2 separate regions of the Homo sapiens genome follow, and region 2 is linked to region 1. The links come from fine-mapping of genetic effects on gene expression. A gene starts in region 1. The other region holds a variant in brackets. All regions are shown on one strand. Distances are from middle to middle.

Region 1 (2,907 bases):
TCGAGACCAGTCTGGCCAACATGGTGAAACCCTGTCTCTACTAAAAATACAAAAATTAGCCAGGAGTAGTGGCACATGCCTGTAATCCCAGCTACTCGGGAGGCTGAGGCACAAGAATCACTTCAATCTGGGAGGCAGAGGTTGCAGCGAGCTGAGACCGCACCTGTGCACTCCAGCCTAGGTGACAGAGTGAGACTCTGTCTCAAAACAAAACAAAAATACTCCCAGAGTAGAGGACTTATTTAGGTGAGGTCAGAAGCTTCCTGGAGTTGGCCCTGAAGCAGGACTCATCCCAATTGCTTGAGGTAAATAGTAATCAACTTTTCCCACAATTCAGTTGGGCTGATTTTGACAAATAAGCATGAAATGAAACAGGAATACACATTGGCAAATTACCCACTGGCACAGCCAAATATCACTCATCCCACAGAGATTGTTCAGCAAGAAGGCCTTCCACTCTCTGGTGATTAATCTCTCTCTCTCTACTGCCCGTTGCATAGCCCCTACTTAGAACTCATCAGGCACCAGTGTGTATGGCTCATGCTCATCTCTGGCTTGGGTTCTTGCTTTTCATCCTGTCTAGGCAGGGTTGCCCTTGATGAGGTTCCTTCTCCACAGGGGCCTTCCCTGGTGAGTTACTGACTAACCAGAACAGACAAGGTGCCCCTGTACTTTCCTTTCACAGAACTTACCACAACGGTAACTAAACAACTATTTGTTTGGCTACTCGGTTAATGGCTGTCTCTCCACTAGACTGTGAGCTTTGTAAGGCCCAGGATTACATCTGTTTGGCTGAAGTCTGTATCCTCAAGACCTATCAGAGTGCTGGTTGTCGCATATACTCTAATATTTGAATGACTATACGAGTAAGTTTTTTTACTGCTAGAATCTTTTCCTTCAAGACCTGTATCAAATGCTCTCTCTTTCACGAAGAAACTGAATTTCCTGAGCTGGAATAAATTGCTCCTTCCTATGGATTCCTACAAAACGTTCGTTAACTCCAGCCTTTAAAACCATCTTTATTTCACTGTGGCTAGTATCACACTGGTTTGCGTCGAGGTCTGTCTTCCCGTGGACCGGTAGAGGCTAAAAGAAAGGCCCAGGTCAGCCTCATCCTTGAGACTTAGCGCCCGCAAAAGTTGGGCGGGGCTGGTTGGACCAGGTTGCATTGAGGCGGCGCAGGGCCCTGCTGAGGGAAGAAGGGCACGGGCCCGGCTTACCTTCTCTTTGACTGCTTGGTAGCTCTGCTGCAGCCAGCTCCGCCACCATCCCACGTCCTCCCTGTGGAAGACAGACACATCTGGCAGCACCGCGGTGCGATTCCTGCCCGCCCAAGGATCCGGTTTGTTCCCCGCTCAGATGTACCCTGCGGGCCGAGGCTTCGCAGACCGCTTGCCCACCCCCTCACAATGCGACTCCACTCTGCCCTTTCAGATCAGTCCACGCCCCCGCTGATCTCACGTTCCCCACCGGGACTCTCGCCCAGCACCCCAACCCTGGGAGAATTCAGGCCCCAACGCCTAGGAGCAAAACGACAAGCTCACCCTTCCGCCATCTTGCCTGCATGACATCACCACTATTTACTGACCTTTGACTTCCGACACGGCACCGCCCCCTCAAGGACCGCCCCCGAGGCGCTCGGCCCAATCCTCGCGCCGGCACCGCCCTCAGCCCAATCCCCTCCCTGCGCCATCATTAGGTCCCGCCTCCCTGAACTCTATCCAGTCTCTGTCCCGAGTTCGCCCTCAAACTCCGCCCCTGAACTCTCAGTTCAATCGTCATTCAGTCCTGTCCTCAGGCTCCACCAAGCTTGACTCTTTGTCACTGTCCGCAAACGTCGGGTACGGTGGCCTCTATGGACGATGATCAGCCGACAAGCTGGACTGCGGAGAGCTGGGAGCAGAGGGGAGGAGGAGAGATAGCTCGAACGTCAGGATCCCAGAGCGCAGGGTTAGGACCGCCCCCCTTTGTGAAACCAGCTGCGTAGAGGCTGCTTTGTGTCTCTTTGGGCTAATTCAATAAGCCCATATTGCGGGGCTGTGGCCCAGAGTTTGGAGGAATGTGAATAATTCAGAGGCGACTTAGATGCAGCCTTTGGAGGGCTTACGGGTTAATGGGAGACACACACATTCAGTAATCTCAACTTTCGGTGGCCCAGCTCAGAACAACGCCAGGTGGAGGTGGTCTGGAGAAATCCGGAGACCGCCTGGATTGAGTTCTACTGCGATTGGAAGGGAGATTCCACAGCCCACATACTTTGGACTTTAATTAAGGTCAGCCCCTCCACGTGTGCGGTAGATCCCATCGCCTCTTGTTTGCTTAAGGACATAGATCTAGTAATCCCCCCTTCATCTCTTTTCCCTCTGATGACTGCATTTATCCTTGTCATCATCCGTACTGCTGTTTCTCCCATCTCAAAGGCAAACAAAAACCAGCCCTCTCTATATCCCTCACCGTTTCCCTACTCCCCTTTACAGCAAAAGCGTTGCCTACTCACAGTCTGCAACTCCCCTCTCCTCCCATTCTCTCTTGAACTCACTGCAGTTAGGTTTTTGCCTCTCAGACAATCCTTTGAAATAACTTTCTTTTATTTATTTAATTTTATTTAATTTTATTTATTTTATATTTATTTGTAGCTCTGCTGCAGCCAGCTCCGCCACCATCCCACGTCCTCCCTGTGGAAGACGGACACATCTATTTTATTTATTTATTTATTTTTGGTCCTCCCTGTGGAAGACGGAAACATCTATTTTATTTATTTATTTATTTTGAGTCAGAGTCTTGCTCTGTTGCCCGGGCTGGAGTGTAGTGGTGCAATCTCAGCTCGCTGCAACCTCTGCCTCCCGGGTTCAAGCGATTCTCCTGCCTCAGCCTCCCGAGTATCTGGGATTACAGTTGTGCACCACC
Region 2 (2,907 bases), 28 kb before region 1:
AACAGACCCCCAGACACCTTTCAGCTTCGGGTGAATCACTTTAATGCTGTTAACGGCAAGTCTGTAAAAGGTTCAGGACAAAGTTCTTTTTTCTTTCTTTTTTAATTATAAAACTAACAGCTGTTAGAATCTTTTTTTCTTTTTTTCCTTTTTTCTTTTCCCAGCTACAAAATACTCTGGGGAGATGCATTATAATTTAAAATATATAATATTGCACAAACAACCAAAAGGTTAATTAAACTAAAGAAATAATTACAAAGAGAAAAACCCCATCCCGTCAAAAAAAAGATTCAGCATTCTCTCCATCCCACCCCCTCACTGAAGGTTTGAAGTGGAAGTGACCTCACTCTCTCGGTGTCCCTGACCCACGATCCCTTTCACTCATTGGTGAGCACACCAGATTAGGTACAAGAATCACCAGAGCAGCATCGTGAAGCACCAGGCTCTCCAGAGATTCCTGCAGCCCCTCATTCCCCCAGAGGTGCAGCTTTACCAGAGTGGAGGGTGAGAGCACAAAGGCTGGGTCTGTCTTCAGGAAGAAGAGCTTTTGCAGAAGCCTGATGAGAGTTTCAAGTTCACCCCCAGGATAGCCCTTCCAGAAGCAGAAGGGCTGAGGCGGAGAAGCTAGGCTTACCAGAGTTGTAAGTACTCGGCTTTGATCACCGCTCTGTACCGCTGGTAGCTGTTTTGTGTCCTAAACTACAGGGGAGTTGAGGTGGGTAGCTGGTTGGACAAGGTATCCTGCCAGGCAACACACAGAAGGGCCTGAAGTAGCCCCCTCCCTTCTTGGGGAGGGGAAGAAACGCAAGAGCGAACTCCTGCAGGTGGCACAGCTGGGCTAAGGACTTGGGTGCATCCGACATGAAGAAGCCCTGGGAAGGCATGGGGACAGACCAGCGTGGGCTGGAGGAAAGGAAGGAGGTGGGTCAGGGTTTGGTCTCTGGATTCTGAACCCCAAAGGAGCCTTTCCAGGAATGGAAAATGCCTGGGAGGGGGAGAGTCCCAAGAGAGGCAAATTTCCCAGAGATAAGTGCCTCTTACCCACTGGGATAGGAACCAAAATGTGTTCACTGTCCCTGTTTAGCCAAGGGTAGGTGGCATGGCCCTCCCTGCCTGCTTATGTATGGACAGAGTATGTTGTCTCAGCTTCCTCCGAGAGAGACTGGTGGTTTAGCTTCTGTCTACACAGGCAGAAGGGCTAGAACTATCCCTTGGGACTTCCCAGCAGGAGTCCTCAGGAACAGTGGGTGTTCAGCAGAAAAACACAGGCTCTTCTGGTGAGGAGGATAGGTTTCCTCTCCCTTGGGTCATCCTATTGTTGGCACAAGTCAGAGTTTCTGGCCGGGATTTAGAGAGCCCCTTCCCAGGTGTGAGCAGAGGCCCAAGAGGGCCAGCAGGGAGCCACCAGAATCTGTGCCCAGAGCTCTGGTTGGCAGAGGAGATTTGGGGGAACATTCTCAGTCTTCCAGGGCTGGGCTGAGACGAGCGAGGGAGGCGAGAGATGCCATGGGTGGGGGAGCTGCTCCCTCTGGCTCCCTCACTCCCAGTCCTCCCACTCTACATCTTCCAGCTGCAAATGGGAGGGGGTAATGGAAATCACAAACAC[A/G]TAGTTACTCCTGAGTCAGGCCCAGACCTAACCTCCACTTGCTGAGCAGAGCCACCTCCCATCCCCTACCCCAGGCCATACTCTGAGGTCCCACTGAGAGTGAACCCCTAGTCTTAAGGAATGTGTCTGAGGGGCAGAGCTGCCCTCTGCCTGAGGGGTGGGCCTGATGCTCTGATTACCTCAGACCTAAAGGAAACACTTCCCCCAACCAACACCAGACACCACAAGGTGATGGCTGCCTACAGGAACCAAGTCAGCCTCAGTCCTTTAAGGAGAACTTGCCTCCTGCTGAGCAGATAATGCCATGGCTCTGAGAAGCAGAGAACTCAGGAGGCCTGAGCAGATACTTGGCCCTGGACACAAAAGACCAGTGTAATCAAGGGCAAGTTACTTAGTCTTTGGGTGAATGGAGGCCACTGCCTGAGTGGCACTGTGGCCAAAAGCAGAGGTGGCAGTGGCCTACAGATGCCCACTAGGTCTTCACTAGGGGCACCAACACCCTAATTCCCAGCTCAAGTCTCCCCACGGAACGTTTTCTTGCTTTGTTCCTACTCTTGGCCTGCTGTCGGCTAAGCCCTGGTATAGCAGGTTCTAGAATGCTCACGTGTACTGCACGTCAGGTTTTAAAGGGGGCTGCAAAGACACAAAAAGCCAGCAAGCCCCTGTGGCCTGACAGGGCACTATGGGCTTTCTCTGTCCTGGGTATAGTGAGGTAGTCACAAGTGCAAAATACTCCTGAGTAGGTAAAATACTCCCCCAAGGCTTCAGTTTCCCATCATGAAAAAGGAGGCCCTTCACATGTCTCTCTAATCTGTCCACCTCTTTCTAACAGGCTCATAAGTTACATGATGGAAGGACTCATGTGGTTCTTATGTGACAGTGGAACTAACGCTGACATGAATCAGATGTCTGGGTTGCAGCCTCAGTCCTGTCACTTATTAGCTGGGAGAGCTTTGGACTGTTCCAGCCTCTCAATCTAAATGAGCCACTTTTGATTCTGAGAGGTAGTGAAGAATAACAGTACTAAGGCCTCCTTGAGCTTAATAACTGGAATGGGTTTTGTGGGGTTTATCACTAATGTCTCCTGAGTGCTGGTCACCATGTCTCAGGCAATAGCCCTAAGGTGTCTACATGGATCACCTCATTACAGCTTATAGCCAGGTCTTATAATGATCAATTCCATGTTTTAGATGAGGAACCAGGGGCTCAGGTTAAGTAACTTGCCCTTGCCCTTGATCACACTGGTCTTTTGTCTCCAAGGCCAAGTATATACTCAGGCCTCATACCTGAGGACCACAACT

Direction of the effects. Alleles are on the strand shown, and positions count from the first base shown. SD is a standard deviation of normalised expression in the study named.
As copies of G replace A in region 2, the expression in tibial nerve of the gene that starts at base 1,582 in region 1 goes up (moderate effect, 0.51 SD a copy in GTEx).

What was found.
Region 2: its variant is fine-mapped to the expression of BSDC1 in tibial nerve (GTEx, PIP above 0.99). The same link has a PIP of 0.9 or more in thyroid and whole blood.

What each region holds. Positions count from the first base shown.
Region 1 is chr1:32,392,860-32,395,766 of GRCh38, forward strand. BSDC1 (BSD domain containing 1) reads right to left here and starts at 1,582. Exons shown (of 11, transcript NM_018045.8): 1 at 1,545-1,582; 2 at 1,221-1,281. The coding sequence starts at 1,555. RefSeq lists enhancers at 623-1,320, 1,308-1,597, 1,321-2,016, 1,888-1,967, 2,715-2,907.
Region 2 is chr1:32,365,085-32,367,991 of GRCh38, forward strand. BSDC1 (BSD domain containing 1) reads right to left here. Exons shown (of 11, transcript NM_018045.8): 11 at 1-1,570. The coding sequence ends at 1,538. Among named protein-coding and RNA genes, the nearest start is that of TSSK3, 4.0 kb to the left of the region's middle. The variant A/G (reference allele first, on the strand shown) is at 1,607.